2 separate regions of the Homo sapiens genome follow, and region 2 is linked to region 1. Evidence: fine-mapped expression QTL. A gene starts in region 1. The other region holds a variant in brackets. All regions are shown on one strand. Distances are from middle to middle.

Region 1 (9,661 bases):
ATGGGAAGAAGTTGGACATGCCTCATTATACCCTCCTTCCTTTTGGAACTCAGGAAAAGCCAACCAGCATTAACATCAACACAGACCTTAAGTCTGATAAGAAACATTTACAATCTATTTTCTCTGAAGCCTGCTACCTGGAGGCTTCATCTGCATGGTAAAACCTTGGTCTCCACAACCCCCTATCTAACCCAGAAATTCCCTTCTGGAATAAGAACTCTTTCAACCAATAGCTAATCAGAAAAATTTTAAATCTATGACCTGGAAGCCCCCCACCCTTTGAGTTGTCCCGCCCTTCCAGATTGAAGCAGTGTAAATCTTACATGTATTGATCGATGTATTCTGTCTCCCTAAAATGAATAAAAGCAAGCTGTACCCGACCACCTTGGGCACATGTTGCCAGGACCTCCTGAAACTGTGTCATGGGTGCCACCTTAACCTTGCAAGGTAAACTTTCTAAATTTATTGAGACCTGTCTCACATACTTTTGGATTCACAAATGTTAGATTAATCCATGAGAGAAGCATTGTTTATTTATTTATTATTATTATTATTTTTTGAGATGGAGTCGGCTCTGTTACCAGGCTGGAGTGCAGTGGCGCAATCTTGGCTCACTGCAACCTCTGCCTCCTGGGTTCAAACTATTCTCCTGCCTCAGCCTCTCAAGTAGCTGGGATTACAGGCACCTGCCACCACGCCCAGCTCATTTTTGTATTTTTAGTAGAGATGGGGTTTCACCAAGTTGACCAGGCAGGTCTCGAACTCCTAACCTTAGGTGATCTGCCCGCCTCATCCTCCCAAACTGCTGCAATTACAGGCATGAGCCACCACACCCAGGAAAGGGAAGCACTTTTTTTTTTCTGTTTTTATAGATGAAGAAATAGAGATACAGAAAATTCAGTAACGTTTTAAAAGTCACATCATGAACCAACCAAGATTTCAACCTGGAAATTGAGGCTTCACCACAAGTGAAGACTGGGATTTTCTTGTTTTCAATTATTGGGAGTTTTGGATTTCCAGGAATGTGCAGTTGTAAAAACCCAGCTTCAGGAAGTGATGAAATAAGTGCAGTGGCTCTGGAGTAAGCTCTGAAGCCCCAGGCTCAGGCTCTATTGAAAAATTACTTTTGCTGAAATATTCTTGTTTTTAGGAACTTCCATGGAACTTGAGCCTTCGCACAGCGTATTTTGGCATCGAATTTAAAGCTAGTAGAGGTCCGGAAGATTCCCAGGATTAAAGTCTTTAAACAGAAAGCGTGAATCTTGCCTAAGTAAAAGGTACCATCTCTGGGTGGGCTTGAACCACCAGCCTTTCGGTTCAAACAGCCGAAGGCACTAACCGATGGCGCCACAGAGACTCTAATGGTTTAGATTTGCTGATACCAGAAATGGCATTTTAACCTCTGGCCGTAGATAATCTCATATGTTTGTAGCCTGTCCAATCCCGCGCACTCCAGAAACCCAGAACACGGGAGACATTGAAGCCAAGAGTCGAGTCTTTGGGCACTTTGGACGTTCTACCCGGGCAGAGTCAGCTGGGGGACTCCAACGGCCAAACGGCCGCCTGCTCCTCACCGTCTGCTCTTCACTGGTTCCCCCGCCTGCTCTTCACCGTCTCAAAAGTCGCCGGCCCCTCTACAGGCGACAACTGCAGCTTCTCCGGCGGAAGTCACTCGCTTTCCCATTCTTAGCCCCGCTTCACACCTTGAGCTCACAGTCATTTCCGCCGGGCCTGGGCTAGCGGACGCGCGCGTGGGAAGGACCAGAACCCGTGGTGTCCTCACCGCGTCACCCTCGGGCCCTCAGAGGTGGGATCCACCGGACAGGGACCTGGAGTTTGCACAGGCTGCAGCCCTTCGCCCAGAGCCAGCCTAGCACCTAGTAGGTGCCCAATAAATGCTTGGTGAAGGAAGGCATTCCACCGCAGGGTTTTAGGAGAACCATGAATTCCCGTGTGAACGTTAAGCGTTTAGTCCTACTAGGAAGTCTGGAATATAGAGACCTGAACTGTTTCTCAAAGGCAGCTGTTCTTGTATCCCCAGAGCCGGTTTAGAATCCAGCAAAGGCCCCTGCCCGGTGGATCCCACCTCTGGAGACCCGAGGATAGTGCGGTGGGGGGCACCGCGGGTTCTTGTCCTTCCCACGCTCACGTCCACCGGCCCAGGCCCAAAGGAACTGGCTGTGGGTACAAGATGTGAAGATAGTTACAAATACCAGCTAGTGCCAGTGCCAGTTGCAGAAATCAGGACTTGTAATAGTTATGAGTATTTCTTCATTATTTTGAGATGAATACATTTGGGTGTATATTAACCAAAACTTTTCTTGAGAATTCTCCTCTTCCATCACCCTAGCTAGCACATTCATTAATAATTAACTTTTAGAAATCTCAATATTTAGGTTACAGGAAAGCAAATATGGAATGTGATCTATCTAGCTAAAAAAGGAGTGAACATCATTCAAAGACAAAGACTTTATCCTGTTGGGGAAAGGGTTGGCATATTTTCACTGAATGAGAAAAAGTATGATTTTCATATTGTCTTTATTTGAACCTTAAGTATGATTTTACAAGGAGGAAAAAGGAGGAGGAAGAAGCAAAAGAAGAGGAAGAGGAGGAAAAAAAGAAGAGGAGGAAGATGTACATTGATGCCACTTTGAGAAGAAGTGGACTGTGGTGGATTTGTAATGTATCAGTTTTGCCAAGCTGAATGCACATTTCCCAGATTTGCCATCTTTAGATAGCTCTAGGTTAGCCTGGGCAACAGGAGACACTTGGAAGATAGAATTCGAGTGGCTGTTACACTCTTTTGTATACTGGGAAGGGCGTTGTTACAGCTCAGGCATGATCTTCAGCTTCCCTGACCCTTGGACTGGTGGGTGTTTTGCTTCTTGATCTAACATTAAGGTTAGAAGTTGCAGGATTCCAGCAGGGTTTTGTCACATCCAATCTGGTTTAAGTTCTCATATTATTAGGAAAGCTTTAGGGTGCTTCAGGAAAACGCTTTTTAAAAAATCAAATTTGGAAAATATCAAATGGAATTATAGGCAATAAGCATAACCCAGTGGAACCATGAATCAAACCCTCTAGAGCAGGGTTGTCTAAATTTTGGCTTCCTTGGGCCACACTGGAAAAAAAAAAAAGACACTTGTCTTGGGCCAAACATAATATACACTAATCGCAATTGAACTGTACCTGTAAAGCTTGTAAACAAAATGTGTCTGTAAAGTCTGTAAACAGGCCAGGTGCGGTGGCTCAGGCCTGTAATCCCAACATTTTGGGAGGCCGCGAGGCAGGCGGAAAACTTGAGGTCAGGAGTTCAAGACCAGGGTGGCCAACATGGTGAAACCCTGTCACTCTTTTTTTTTTTTTTTTTTTTTGAGACGGAGTCTCACTCTGTCGCCCAGGCTGGAGTGCAGTGGTGCGATCTCAGCTCACTGCAACCTCTGCCTCCCGGGTTCAAGCGATTCTCTTGCCTCAGCCTCCTGAGTAGCTGGGACTACAGGCACGTGCCACCACACCCGGCTAATTTTTTTTTTTTGTATTTTTATTAGAGATGGGGTTTCACTGTGTTAGCCAGGATGGTCTTGACCTCCTGACCTCATGATCCACCCGCTTCCGCCTCCCAAAGTGCTGGGATTACAGGCGCGAGCCAGTGCGCCCGGCCCGGTGAAACCATGTCTCTACTAAAAATTCAAAAAATTAGCCGGACCTAATTTTTTGGTTGCCTGAGCCTGTAATGCCAGTTACTCGGGAGGCTGAGTATTCTCTGGTTGAGGAAGGAGAATAGCTTGAACGCAGGAGGCAAAGGTTGCAGTAAGGCGAGATCGCGCCATACACTCCAGCGGACTGTTTGCTGTTAATCCCATAGGGAAAAGAAAAGCTTAGTTTTATTTCTATAGAACAACAACAAAAAAAGATAAGAGATTAGTAGAGACGGGTTCACTATATTTGCCCACACACGCCTGAGGTCGAGCGATATTAACATAAACATAACCTATCGACGTACCTCATAGATTGCTGGGATTACAAACGTGAGAACCACGATGTCCCAAATTTTTAGTTTCAGTGAAGTTACAGATGGGAACAAAGACCTGATTCTCAGCTTACGCTGACGCCCAGTATGCGTTTCTGCAGCAAACAAAACCTATTTTTAAAACGACAAAAATACAGGGGAAAGCGCGAATGCAGTCTACCACTGCCACAAATTATACAGTCAAGTTTCCCACATTTGGGGAAACTGCAGGGGTCAGCAGATCCGGAGTGCAATGGATAAGACTCGCTCTGGAAAAACCACCTTCGTGACCAGGGTATCTCTCCTGCCAGGTAAGTATGAGTTATTGCACCTCCGCCCCGCCGGCAGCCTCACACGCTTCACCCTTTACACGCACGGTCACTTGCCCCGCGCACACCCCCCTCCCCCCCAGCCCTCCTAGCCCTGACACACAGCTGGGACTCTCAGGTCCGACCAGCGGTCCTGAACCCGCTCCCACGGCACGGGAACTCCTTCGTGGCGAAGCAGCATGTGGCGAAGCAGCAGCCCCTGCGCTGGCTCATCTACATAGAAGTCGCCCTATCCGTGATGTCACCGACAGCGCCTTTCCCAGTCCCCGTCTGCCTTTCTGCCGCTCAGCCGACCAACCCGCTGCCGGAGCCGGCAAGGGGAAGTGACGTCTGCCTCTCCCTTTTTTCTCTCCTGCTTCCCTCATCTGTTCTCTTCCAAAGAAGCTGGTCCTTAGCCTGTATTGCGGAGCAAGCTTTCGGCGACCAGCTGGACCCTGGGCACCCTTCTTCGAACAATGGCTTTTAATTCTCAGACTAGAACGTTTAGGATTACAAAAGAAACTGGTTCTTTTCACATTCTTATTCTTGTGATGTAGCATTCCGCATATATATATATATATATATATATATATATATATATATGTATCCAACTATCCTAAAAGACACTACCCTTCATCATTCCATGCCATTAGACATGTATAGGACCATGCATGGTGATCTCCTCCAGACAAAAGTAAATGCTGGTGCAGAACAGGTAAGTGTACTATAATTTGAGTACATCAGCTTTTGGGCATTTTAAACCATGGGTCAGACAAGTTAGAGCAAGAGGGCAGGTTGATAGCAAGAGGGAGTGTTTTTCTTTTAATTTTCTTTTTTTTTGTTTTGAGACGGAGTCTCGCGCTCTTCGCTCAGGCTGGAGTGCAGTGGGGCTATCTCGGCTCACTGCAAGCTCCGCCTCCCGGGTTCACGCCATTCTCCTGCCTCAGCCTCCCCAGTAGCTGGGATTACAGGCACCTGCCACCACGTCCGGCTAATTTTTTGTATTTTTAGTAGAGATGGGGTTTCACTCTGTTAGCCAGGATGGTCTCGATCTCCTGACCTTGTGATCCGCCCACCTCGGCCTCCCAAAGTGCTGGGATTACAGGCGTGAGCCACCGCGCCCGGCTTCTTTTAATTTTCAAATAGCAAAGTGATGTTTGCCACTGTCATTTCAGAATGAGGTGACAATTTGTTGTTGTTTGGTTTTGTGGGGTTTTTTGTTTGTTTGTTTGTTTCTGAGACAAGGTCTCACTGTCGCCCAGGTTGGAGTACAGTGGCATGATCAGGGTTTACTTCTGCCTTGACCTCACGAATTCAAGCAAACCTCCTTACTAATCCTCCCAAGTAGCTGGGACTACAGGTGCATGACACCACACCCTGGGGTGTGAACTGGGATTTGATGTTTTCAGTTGGCTCCCTGATGGAATAGGTTCCCTTACTATTCTGGAATACAGATTGTCTTCATGATTATGATTCATAATCATAATGATTATGACAGCAGTCCCTGCTGTCAGGCAGGGACGTTTAAGTCTGCAGAAGCTGTCTGCTGCCTTTTATTCAGATATGCCCTGCCCCCAGAGGTGGAATCTAGAGGCAGTAGGCCTTGCTGAGCTGCAGTGGGCTCTACCCAGTTCGAGCTTCCCTACCACTTTATTTACACTGTGACCATAGAACCACATACTCAAGCCTCAGCAGTGGCAGAACCCCCTCCCCCTGCCATGCTCCAGTGTCACAGGTTGATCTCAGACTGCTGTGCTAGCAGCAGGCAAGGCTCCATGGGCATGGGACCTGCCGAGCCAGGCACAAGAGGGAATCTCCTGGTCTGTCGGTTGCAAAGACAGTGGAAAAAAGCACAGTATTTGGGCAGGGGTGTACTGCTTCTCGAGGTACAGTCACTCACAGCTTCCCTTGGCTAGGAAAAAGAAATCCCCCAACCCCTTGCACTTCCCGGGTGAGGCGACACCCCACCCTGCTTTGGCTCATCCTCCGTGGGCTGCATCCACTGTCCAACGAGTCCCAGTGAGATGAACCAGGTACCTCAGTTGGAAATGCAGAAATCACCTGTCTTCTGCGTCTATCTCACTTGAAGCTGTAGACCGGAGCTGTTCCTATTCAGCCATCTTGGAAGCAACCCTCTTTTTCTTTTTGTATTTTGGTAGAGACAGGGTTTCACCATATTGCCCAGGCTGGTTTCAAACTCCTGAGGTCAAGCCATTCTATAAAACAAACTTACATTTGTTTTATCTGAGTTCCTTCCTCAGGAAAGGACTCTCAGGCCTCTCAAAAAGCATCAGAGACCCGAAACTCAGCCAATCACAGCATCCAGACAATGAGATGCCAGTCCCCTCACTCATCACGAGTGCTTCCTCACCCCTCTCTAGTTCCTCTTTTCCCACACACAGTTAACTTTTCTTCTGCGCTATATAAACCCCTAACTTTAGTCAATCAGGGAGACAGATTTGAGACTCATCTCCTGTCTACTCAGCTGCAGCACCTGATTAAAGCCTTCTTCCTCAGCAATACTCAATGTCTCAATGATTGTCTTTCTGTGTGCTGAGAACACTGAAGCCCTGGGGTTTTGGTAAAAATACATGTACACTTTTAAAAACCGCAATTAATGGGTTGTGGTATATTGAGAAATTGGAGTGGCATCAACTTGGCCAATTCTGAGGAAACACACTGTGCTTAAGTGTGAGGGCCCTGCCTCCTGACCTCGACAGTTTATGGTTGATTTTGAGGCACAGCAGGGGAGTATGGCCTGGTTTGAGTGTTTTATAGAAATGTAAAACATGGCTGATTACTTTTTATTTTAAATCCAACAAATCTCCATTTCTGGTGAGAAAATCTTGCCAAAACCAACCAAACAAATGCGTAGAAGTATATGAAGAAGAAAATGAAAGATTCCCTGCCTCCCAATCCCACTTGCTTGGTGTCAGCCATTATTTATCACATGGAGGAAGGGGGCAAGACACACAGGAAGTCCCAAGTCCTGTTCTCACAATCATCTGGCCTCCCTGGGCAAAGGGAAAAGAGGGAAGGCAAAAAGAATATAACACTACTGTTTGCGGAAATTTCCCCTTGGTACAGGAAACTCTGGTAAACTGAGAGAGTATGTTTTCCAGAGGGAGGCCTCAAGGGCTCTTCTCTGGCCCTAAGCCCAAACTGGATTTTGCCTCATTTTCTGAGGTGCAAATGAAATGATAAAAGTTGATCAAAGGAGAGGGCAGAGAGAAAGAAAGAAAGAGGATGACTCCTCTCTCGCAGGTCCACCTTCCTTGGTGTTGCTTGAGGGATCAGAAGAAATGCCTTAACATAGGTGTGTGGGAACTATGGCTGCTAAGTATGAACTCAGTTACCTCCAGTTATAAGCTAGTGTGAGGTTCCATGGTGTAATGGTGAGCACTTTGGACTCTGAATACAGTGATCAGAGTTCAAGTCTCACTGGGACCTTTCTGTATAATTCCAGTGAGGTTCCTCTCTATTGCTCCATAAGCAGAATGGGGGAAATTGCCCAATCGTGGTCACAGACCCTCCATGCCACTGGCTGTGTGCAATTGGAGTCCCGGACCCAGCGACCAGCAAGACCCCTCCCCTCTCAGGGTGACCCTGGGCCTCCAGGTCACAGGTCTCCACTAAAAAGGCTGCCTCCCCTCAATCCTAGACCCCGAGTTTTCTTTTGTTCATGTCATTGGGCCATTGCCCTATGTCTCTTTGGAAGAAATGACCTATATGAAAAACTTTACTTCCAGGATTCCCTAATTCTTTCATCCCTTAGGACAGTGCAGTTTTTCATCTCCTGATCTTGGGTCCAGTACTAATGGCGCGTTTCATCTTGTTTTCATGGGATCCCCTCCAACCGGCTACCAGTGGATTCCTGTCCTTGGGGTCTCTGTGGATGACAACTAGATGCTGCTCTTGTCCCAAATCCTGACACCTCCCTCCAGGGAATTGCCTCCCTTCGCCTCCTAAATCAGCCAATATTTAGATTTGAGCCTGGAATCCCAGCATCTGTGGAGAACGGAGGTTCCTGATCCCTGGCCAGCCTCCCGCAGTGAAGGGGAGAGGAGCAGAGCAGCTGGGAGGGGCAAGTCCAGGGTCCTGGGCAACCCCCTTCTTCCTGCCCAGACTCTGCTCCAAGGAGAAGTTGCCTTAGGACCAGATCAGATGGAAACTCTTGTTCTCTTCTCATCAGCAGAAAAATTTAGGCAAGAGCTCTGGAGGACCTTCCTAGCTCATAAAAATGCTGTGGTCAAGTCTCTCCAGTTTTGGAAGTGTCCAAGGTTACCAAGTGTTTTGAGGGCTCACTTTGGAGCCTCTGAAAAGGAGGGGTCAGGGCCCATGGAAGGTACCTGAGGGATTCAGGAGAGAGAGGGGAAAGAGCAGACAGGAGGGAGGAGAGAAGGAGGGAGGGGGAGAAAGGGTGTGTGAGGGCCAGGAGCCAGGATTCACCCTGACAGTTCAGTGACTGCTCCCTGGCCCCAAAGTTCCCACTGTGGCACCTTCCAGCAGGTGGTTTCCATCTCTTATTGATGTCCTGAGAACTTGGCTCTACAGAACGGTCCCACTCTATTTGTCTGGCATGAGTCCTGCAAAGTTTCTTTTCATCGTTTGGGGGATGAGATGGGGGTATATAGGTTTGCAAGTGACTAGGAGCTAAGTCAGGACCTTGTGGAGCTGCTCAGAGTTAACTGTCAAGTAGCCTCCTTTCCCCCTTCCCTAGCAGGACGATTGCCTGCAAGACAGGGCCTGGAGGAGGCCAGGGAACCCAAGGCCACAGAAATGCCCAGGGATGAGTCCCAGCTGGAGATGCCTTGGCTAAGCTGACTGTGCACTTCCAGGGCTCACAGGGGTCTGGCCAGGAGACTGAGCAAGGGGACCAGGGAGGTTATGCAGAGGCTTCTGCACAGCAAGGCAGACATTCTTCTTGGAGCCCCCAACCCAAATCAGGTCTTCCACCTCCTCTTCCTAAAGACCCTTTACTGCTGTCGTTCTTTTACTGAACTACAAGTTTAGAGGACATGGATTTCAGTGCCCTCATCTGGCCAACCATCTTCAGCTGCCAATGGGCAAGGTAACCTCCCTCCCTGCCAAGACCTGACTCAGGACCTTTCCTTAAGGAGATGTCCTGTTCTTTCTTTCCCACCAGAACTGCCCTGGCCCAGACCCCATTTCTGTCTGGTGACCAGGACAGTCCCCTCACCAGTCTCCCAGGTTGGGGAGGGCAGATCCTCCTCAGCTCCCTGCCCCTGAGAGACCCCAACCGTCTTGTGTGGCTCCGGCCCACAGAGTGATATCCATGGCCCATATCTCTCAAAACTCTCCCCTCCCACTCTGAATCCACCCT
Region 2 (9,661 bases), 83 kb after region 1:
CTGTCAATATTAGACAGATCAATGAGACAGAAGCTTAACAAGGATATCCAGGACTTGAACTCAGCTCTCCACCAAGCAGACCTAAAAGACATCTACAGAACTCTCCACCCCAAATCAACAGAATATACATTCTTCTCAGCACCACATCACACTTATTCCAAAATTGACCACATAGTTGGAGGTAAAGCACTCGTCAGCAAATGTAAAAGAATGGAAATCACAACAAACTGTCAGACCACAGTGCAATCAAATTAGAACTCAGGATTAAGAAACTCACTCAAAACCACACAACTACATGGAAACTGAACAACCTGCTCCTGAATGACTACTGGGAAAATAACAAAATGAAGGCAGAAATAAAGATGTTCTTTGAAACCAATGAGAACAAAGACACAACATACCAGAATCTCTGGGACACATTTAAAGCAATGTGTAGAGGGAAAATTATAGCACTAAATGCCCACAAGAGAAAGCAGAAAAGATCTAAAATTGACACCCTAACATCACAATTAAAATAACTAGAGAAGCAAAGCAAACAAATTCAAAAGCTAGCAGAAGACAAGAAGTAACTAAGATCAGAGCAGAACTAAAGGAGATAGAGACACAAAAAACCCTTCAAAAAATCAATGAATCCAGGGCTGGTTTTTTGAAAAGATCAACAAGAAAACCCTGTTTGGCTAGTTCACCTGGCTCATCTGATGGCAAGTTCCTATCTTGAGAGGACTATGAAATTAAAACCAATACAAGTGCCACAAATAACATACAACATTGTAAATCAGCACAATTTGTAGCTGGGTGAATGGAAGAAATAGTTCTATTCATCACTTCCTCATTTTCCCTAAATCTACAATCTCCAGATGTCACTACTGAATTAACAGCCAACAATTCCACAACATTACCTGGGAGACACTGGCCCTTTTTCTTCCTCTTCCTCATCATCACTTTCATTTTCTGTAAATAAATTCAGAGAAGCAGGTCACATTAAGCAATTCATACTTCACATATGAACAAATCACTGTCCAGTCATAGCACAAGGACATAACTATTCTCAGTGCAAGAATAAGGATTCTGACAGGAATATTCTAGGGTGTCCTAGATTAACTTTGGTGAGAATTAGATGACCCTGCTTTCCAGACCCACAGGCCAAAATCTCCCTCTACGTGTAGACCATAATGCCATATTCCCTGCCTGAGTCAAAGTTAAACAAAATTTTTTCCCCAAAAAAATCTCCAAAAATTGGTCAAACAATTTTCTAAGAGTGTTGCTGCGATACGGACTTATATCACCAGGTAACATGGACATTAAATGTTTAGAGGCATCTATACATGAAACACGACTGATAGATAAATTTGAACAACTCTTGCTTTAAAAAGAATCTGTGATTTGGGAGGCCAAGACAGGTGAATCATTTGAGGTCATGAGTTCAGGACTACCCTGGCCAATATGGGGAAACCCTGTCTCTACTAAAAATACAAAAATTAGCCAGATGTGATGTTGTGCACCTGTGGTCCCAGCAACTCAGGAGGCTGAGGCAGGAGAATCACTTGAATCTGGGAGGCAGAGGTTGCACCAAGCCAAGATGGTGCCACTGCACTCCAGCCTGGGTGACAGAGCAAGACTCCATTGCAAAAAAAAAAAAAAAAAAAATCCACGATGCTACAAAGAAACATTGGATCAGCCATTGCATTGACAGGGTGGAGAACCAGGGTCCAGCCTTGCTTTATGGAAATATATCAGCAAAGTAAAGAAGAAAAGTTTCCGTCCTGATTTCAGGGTGACTGTGCAGCTAAGCAAGCTGACTTAAAGGAGATCCAGATGAAAGCTGAGAGCAGTGAAGCCTGGGGAACAATATTTCCAAATACAAAGGCAAGGCTGCCAGCTTCCTTAAACAGGCATAGAAACTCCATGGACATTGTTCAGGGACAGATGACTTAATCACAGATGACAAGAGATACTGAATCGAAGATAGGAGGCCTGACAGATACTGCCTGTGCACCTCCTGCACTCAGGTGACTATGAGATTGTCACACTTGCCTGGGGTTGAGTAACTTGATACTGGGGACTGGCAGACAAAGTCATGACATTAGCTGAGAAGGACAAACAAACTCCCTGATATCTGTTTAGAAACCCATCACAGTTTTTTATTCAAATGAATTTGTGTTTATAGAGCCTGTCTTCAGAGTTTATCTTTCTCAGCCTAGAGAGAGGTATGAGACACAAGGAAAACAGAGGCTACCTGGAATAATGTGTACAGCATCCTCCCATTCAACATGAGAGGATGAGCCAATGAGAGTTGAGTCGACTTTGTCTTCCTCAAATGTGATTTTGGTTTTCCTATGTGGCTGGTTGGAGTCATAAGAGCCATGGCTATTTGAATAAGTGATGGCACATTCCTCCAGTGAGTCCTCAGGGACTTCCTTTTCTTCAGCCTTCTGCATCTCCCTGATGAGCCAGGTGGGACAGAGATGACAGAAGATTAAACACAGAGGGATTGGACCCCAGGGAGTCCTAGCTGGTTTTGACAGGCGGCATTAAGAGAGTGGTCCCAGAAAGCAAAATGGAGGTTCCCATTAAGAGGGAACATGCAATCCTGTTCTCTCTGCAACAGAGCATGGCTGCCATGGGAACCAGAGAGGAAGAGAGCAGCTGCTGTTCATTGCACTGGACAGATAGGAGCTGAGGAGGATGAAGACTCAGCTATCCCTGTACGGTGCAGACATGACACTCAGCACACATAGAGAAACATGACAGCTACCGCACCCTGTGTCTAAGCTGGATTATATTTCACATACTGTGGCCAAGCGAATGCGGGTTTTTGGCCCATCATAGATGCCAGAGAGGGTGTGCCTCCTAGATATTCCTCATATGTTACCATCCATTAATTGTTCCTGAGTATTCAGTGTTACCTGGGGGCAGATGATTTCTGCACTTTCTCAGCCACCTCAACTTGAACATCTTCATCGTCATCGTTGTCATTTTCTGCAAATACAGAAGTGTTCGTTCAGGTATTTCCCACTTCACAGTCTGCAAGCACAGTCAGCCCAATGTGCAACAGAGACATGAACATCTAGGCATGGGTCACCGTTCAACTGAAAACTCTCATGTTTTATCTTTAACAGAATGCCCTGGCATGGTTTCCTGATCCATCAGGCAATGCATTTCTGATCTGGAGGGCCACCATCAAGATGTGGCCAAATATTGAAAAGACCTTTTGCTTCCCATATCACTGGAGGCTTGTGCAGCCTCTCTCTGGACGTTGGCAGCTGTCTCCCCCATCCTGCCAGATCTGATTCCCAGGCACAGGCTTGGTGTCCTGTCACGGTTTGCATTTCAAACCTCATTCTTTCTCTTAGAAGCAGACAAACTTGTCCCACAGTCCTCTATGCATCAGAAGATTTCAAGCCTCCAAGTGGCTTCTGCTGTGTTCTTCAGGGACATTCTATCCATGGGGAGTGCTCCAGTCTGAAGCACTTCCTACCACAAAACGCCCCCACATAAAGTGCCTTCTCCAACATCACACGGCAAGGGCCTTCATCTCATTTTGGAAAGCAGTTGTAAGTGTTCCCACATTTGAATGCTTCAGACCCTTGCAAGAGACAATTTGTCTGCCACGGAGAGAGAGAAACTCAGGAAGGACAAGTCATTCACTCTCTGACAGTTACTAAGAACATTGCCGAAAAGACAGCCTGGGAACCTTCATTCTTAGTCCTGAGCTCTTTTCACTCTAACAAGCCTGCTCCCATCGCAGCCTCCTTCCTGTCCTTTAAAACTAGACAGATGCTGCCTCTTGCTCCAAAGACCACCTTTCATCAAGGGAGGAGGGACACTTGCAATACTGTGACCTCCAACCCCATGGGTTTCCCATCTCCGTTCTTACCCAAGAAGTCCTGGTCATGTCATGGCCACATAAGCTTAGTGGAAAAAAACACCATTGATACAACTGTCATTGTGAAAGTATGGAGGTCTGGAGTCTCTCATAAGCCTGGGATTTTGGGTCATCAGGGCCTATGGCCACCTTACCTGGGCTGAGCTTTTGGACAAGGTGCTGTGCCAGTCTACACCCCTCAGCCAGCTGTTCTTGGAGGTCCTGCCCCTGGGACTTGTCCGGCTCATACGGAGTGAGGAGGGCCTGGAGATGCTCATTCAATGAGCGGGAGGCATCTCTCCCTTCCCGTAACTTCTCCTTTAACTGGGTCAGCTCTCGTTCCTGAGCGTGAACCAGGACTTTATATTGCCTAAGGTGAGACGGTAGAGAAAATTTAAGAGTGGAAAGGGTTGAGTGATCCGCTCAAATATTGCAACAGAGATTTCTGAGACAATGTCCTCAAGGAGACCTCGAAGCAGAAGGTCAGCACATGTGGAAAGGAATGTCTGTGGCCAAGAGAAAGAATAGAAAATGGTTTACAGGCTTCCTCTGTATCAGAGAGGGCTCTTGCAAGATCCTCGATGATGTTCCATTCATCTTTCTCTTCTGTAAACAAAAGTAGGTGTCTTCCTAATTCCGTTTCAAAAAGACATCCTTTCAGTTCCTCACTCTGGCCATGGACATTTCCATGTGAAAATACACATAGTGCATCTTGCGGCCACTAGATACAAAGCCATGTACAGAAATGAGGCCAGGTGCAGATGGGGCGAATTGAAAAGATGAAAGAAGAAAAGAAGGACAGGGTCGAGAAGGCAACATTGATTGAGTGAAAGAATGAGAAGCCGCAGTCAGTCAGGAGGTGATTCTCACTAAGGGTAAGTGGGGTGGTGATGGCACACCATTTTGAGTATACTGAATGCTGCTGTGTGGTTCACACTCCTTTGGTTAATTTTGTGTTATGTAAATTTCACATCAACAATTACTTGTTTGAAAAAGAGAAAACAAGGCTCTGAGAAACAACTGCAACCCATACATTTTTACTATCCTTCTTCTCTGATAAATATTTGTGTGTAGCGAGCCTGCCATGGCAATTCCTGCCCTTCCCCTGGCCCAGCTTAGCTCTTACGTCTCCCCACCGAGCTGCTGTACTTCAGAGATTTACACACCTGC[G/C]CCCCTGCCTGCCCCCATGGGGTCCCCTCACCTGAGCTCCTCAGCTTGCTTGAGCTGCTCTGCAAGCTTCTCCTCCTTGAACTGTCGCTCATTCCTCAGCATAAATTTTATGAGGTCTTTGCACTCTTCATATTCTGAGAAAAGACAGACACACCTGCCTCAGTGGAAGGCTGGACATGCTGCTGTGGTCATTGCCTACAGGACAGGAGCCAGGTCCATCCCAAGGACAAAACTCTCCCCAGTACCAGGGTCTAGACAGGGATTTCCACATCTTTACTCTTCAGTCTCCTGACTTTCTGGCATCTGATCCTCCAAAATTTAGAGATGAAGAAAGAGAACCTCAAGGGCACATCAAGGAAGTTGACAAGATGATTCAACCACAATGAAGTGGAGTCAGAATTCACAGTCCCTGAGGTCTGACTCTGAATGCGGGGCCACTTTCCCAAGCCTTGCAGCCTCTCCTCTAAAACACTGCACTGGGGCATGAAGTAGTGATTTCTTGTACAGTCGGGAAGGCCCCTAGGACTATGGGACTGATGGTTTCCCTTTTACTGGGAATTTCAAGGACAAGTATGCGAAAGATTTTTAAAATCTTTGATTTTTAAATCATATCTTCAGTTATGATTTTAAGAATCATATCTGAAGCATAAAGTGTGACACATAACACCATAAGGCCATGAAGGAAATATGCCCAAATGCTAATAAAGTTTGTGTTAATTTAGAAACAGCAGAATGAAGAACTAATAGATAGTGTTTACTGTGTGCCAATAAATGTTCTAGGAGATTGACAAGAAATAGCTCATGTAATTCACTGCAGCAATTTACAGAGGTAGGTATTATTGTAGTACCCTCTGAACAGGTGAGGAAACTGAGGGACAGACAAGACAAGCAACTTGGATGGAGCCCAGGAGACAGGCCCACGGTCCCTGCTCTGTACACTGCACTGCTATCTCCACACATTCTCGGGTGCGATCTTTCTTCCTCTTTAGCAACAAGACTCTGTGCCCCAGGAAGCAGGACTTCACTCTCACCAAGCTACTCTCTGCTTTTTATTCTTATTTTTATTTATCATTATTATTATTATTATTTTTAACAGTCTTGCCCTGTCGCCCAGGCTGGAGTGCAATGGCAAAATCTTGGCTCACTGCAACCTCAGCCTCCTGGGTTCAAAGGATTCTCCTGCCTCAGCCTCCTGAGCAGGGGTGATTACAGTCACCTGCCACCACGCCCATCTACTTTTTGTATTTTTAGTGGAGATGGGGTTTCTCCATGTTGCCCAGGCTGGTCTCAAACTCCTGACCTCATGATCTGCCCGCCTCAGCCTCCCAAAGTGCTGGGATTACAGGAGTGAGCCACCATGCACGGCCCCTACTCCCTGCTCTTGATGCTGTCACTTATAGACAGCACAGGTTCTATTAGGAGTAGACTCCTCTTGAAGCCCCTCAGAGCAGGTACTGGCTACTATCACCAAGTTCCCCTCAGAGTCACTAGAACAGAGCTTTGCCTGTTGGGCCTCAACAGAAACTTGAACTGAATAAAAGTTCACTAGTCTCAGACATTTAGAACAACAGACTAGATGTTATTTGTCTGCAGGATCTTATATGGTACAGAGAGGATTCTTGAAAACACGATTGAGCCTCTTGGAGAAAACAGGTCATTCTGTGCCTGTGTCAGAAATCAATAAATGGCAGTTTAACTCTAGTCCCACCCCCACCTGATTGCAAACATGGAAAGTTGCTAAATACTTTGGTACCTCTGTCTTCCAACTTTGACAAAATGTTAAAATACCCATTTCTGTTTTCCTAGAAGTACAGGAAGGATGAAATTATTTTTGATGGAGAGAGCATTTAGTGTCTCAGAGAGAAGACAGGATATCATTCATCACTTTCATGATGGTGAGCCTATAGATCTTACTGTATTTCTTCTGTTGGTTGGCCAGGAAGCCGGACAGTTGAGTTAGAAAACATTTCTCTTTGAGGTTTCTGAACTGCTGTTTCTTCTCTGCCAGCTGGGGGCGCAATTTCTCATTGATTTCTAGAATGTTCATCTCTGCCTTCTCGCTGGACAAAGGGCCGGCTGATACCACCATGCTGACGTTTGTGGCAGAAGAGGTGGGGCCAGGGACTGGGGAGAAGAAAGGCAAACACATGATGGGTTAAAAACTGGTGAAATCAAATAGGCTTAATCAGGACTGAGGGATGTCACTGGCAGCCTTGTTTACTTATTTGAAGATGATGTTTCCCTGGTTTCACTCTTGTCATCTCCAGTCTTGATCTCCTTTAAGTCAACTTGTCTTAGCTATGCAGTCACCTTGAAACCAGGACATAAACACTTCTACACTTTTCTTGCTTATACGTTTCTATAAAGCAAGGCTTGGCCCTGAGATTTTTACCCCATGAGTGGCCAATGTTTCTGTGTAGCACAAAAGATTTCATTTTGCTTTTTTAATTTTTTTCTTTTTTGGTTTTTTGTTTTTTGTTTGAGACGGAGTCTCACTCTGTCACGCAGGCTGCAGTGCAGAGGCACAATCTCAGCTCACTGCCACCTCTGCCGCCCGGGTTCAAGCGATTCTCATCCCTCAGCCTGCCAAGCATCTGGGATTACAAGCGCCAAGTAACATGCCAGCTAATTTTTGTATTTTTAGTAGAGACGGGGTTTCGCCATCTTGGACAGGCTGGTTTCGAACTCCTGAGCTCAGGTGTTCCGCCCACCTCAGCCTCCCAAAGTGCTGGGATTAAGATGTGAGCCAGCGCCCCTGGTCAGAGACTTACTTTTTTTTTTTTTTTTTTTTTTTTTGAGATGGAGTCTCGCTCTGTCTCCCAGGCTGGAGTGCAGTGGCACAATCTCGGCTCACTGCAAGCTCCGGTTCCTGGGTTCATGCCATTCTCCTGCCTCAGCCTCCTGAGTAGCTGGGACTACAGGCGCCCACCACCACGCCCAGCTATTTTTTTTTTTTTTTTTGTATTTTTAGTAAAGACGGGGTTTCACCGTGTTAGCCAGGATGGTCTCAATCTCCTGACCTCATGATCCACCCGCCTCGGCCTCCCAAAGTGCTCGGATTACAGGTGTGACCCACTGCGCCCAGCCGAGACTTATTAATAGCTAAGACAAGCCAATGAAAAGGAGAGAGAGTCTAGCCTGACAGAAGTGAATGAGAGTGGGAGGATCATCTCAGCCCATCCTCCCACCTAAGTCTCCTGAGCAGTTGGGACTATAGGCGTGCAGCACCATGCCTGCCTAATTTTTTGTATTCTTTGTAAAGATGGGTTTCACCATATTGTGTAGGCTGGTCTTCAACTCCTGAACTCAAGTCATCGTCCCACTTGGGCCTTCCAAAGTGCTGTGATTATATGTGTGAGTCACAGCACCTAGCTCCATCCTAGTTTCTGACTAAAACAATAACAATATGTGTATATACAGCCTGTCCTCAGAATTGATCTTCCATAGCCTAGACAGAGGTATGAGACACAAGGAAAATAGAGGCTACCTGGGAGAATGTTTAGAGCATCCTGACATTCATCATGAGAGGATTCTCTGTCTACAACCAGAGTTGAGTTGACTTCGTCTTCCTCAAATGTGATTTTGATGTTCTTGTGAGGCTGGTTGGAGTCACAAGGGCCGTGGCTATTTGAACAAGTGATGGCACATTCCTCCAGTGAGTCCTCAGGGACTTTGCTCTCTTCAGCCTTCTGCACCTCCCTGATGAGCCAGGTGGGACAGAGATGACAGAAGATTAAACACAGAGGGATTGGACCCCAGGGAGTCCTAGCTGGTTTTGACAGGCGGCATTAAGAGAGTGGTTCCAGAAAGCAAAACGGAGGTTCCCTTAAAGAGGGAACAGGCAATCCTCTTCTCTCTGCAACAGACCATGGCTGCCATGGGAGCCAGAGAGGAAGAGAGCAGCTGGTGTTCAGTGCACTGAACAGATAGGAGCTGAGGAGGATGAAGACTCAGCTATCCCTGCATGGTACAGACATGACACTTGGCACACATAGAGAAACACGACAGCTGCCGCACCCTGTGTCTAAGCTGGGTTCAATTTCACATACTGTGGCCAAGGGAATGCGGGCATTTGGCCCATCATAGATGCCAGAGAGGGTGTGCCTCCTAGACATTTTCATACGTTACCACCCATTACTTGCTCCTGAGTATTCAGTGTTACCTGGGGGCAGATGATTCCAGTACTTTCTCAGCCTCCTCAACTTGAACATCTTCATCCTCATCTTCGTCATTTTCTAGAAATACAAAATGTTCGTTCAGATATTTCCCACTTCACATTCTGCAAGCACAGCCAGCCCAACGTGCACAGAGACATGAACATCTATGTATGGTTCAGCATTGTACTGAAAACTCTCATGTTTTATCTTTCACAAAATGCCCTGGCATGGTTTCCTGCTCCATCGGGCAATGCATTTCTGATGTGGAGGGCCACCATCAAGATGTGGCCAAATACCGAAAAGACCTTTTGCTTCCCATATCACTGGAGGCTTGTGCAGCCTCTCTCTGGACTTTGGCAGCTGTCTCCCCCATCCTGCCACAGATCTGATTCCCAGGAACAGGCTTGGTGTCCTGTCACAGTTCGCATTTCAAACCTCATTCTTTCTCTTAGGAGAGGACAAACTTGTC

Evidence for each region.
Region 2: its variant is fine-mapped to the expression of LINC01719 in caudate (GTEx, PIP above 0.99). The same link has a PIP of 0.9 or more in putamen.

The regions. Positions count from the first base shown.
Region 1 is chr1:146,047,917-146,057,577 of GRCh38, forward strand. It overlaps LINC01719 (long intergenic non-protein coding RNA 1719), which reads left to right and starts at 4,680. Exons shown (of 3, transcript NR_125968.1): 1 at 4,680-5,032. It overlaps RNVU1-6 (RNA, variant U1 small nuclear 6), which reads right to left and starts at 4,328; the gene lies at 4,165-4,328. RefSeq lists enhancers at 3,538-4,266, 4,267-4,998 and a silencer at 4,178-4,417.
Region 2 is chr1:146,131,287-146,140,947 of GRCh38, forward strand. NBPF10 (NBPF member 10) reads right to left here. Exons shown (of 90, transcript NM_001302371.3): 4 at 9,198-9,270; 5 at 8,523-8,734; 6 at 6,950-7,159; 7 at 5,067-5,169; 8 at 4,021-4,235; 9 at 2,907-2,979; 10 at 2,237-2,442; 11 at 900-951. Among named protein-coding and RNA genes, the nearest start is that of NBPF10, 8.7 kb to the right of the region's middle. The variant G/C (reference allele first, on the strand shown) is at 5,036.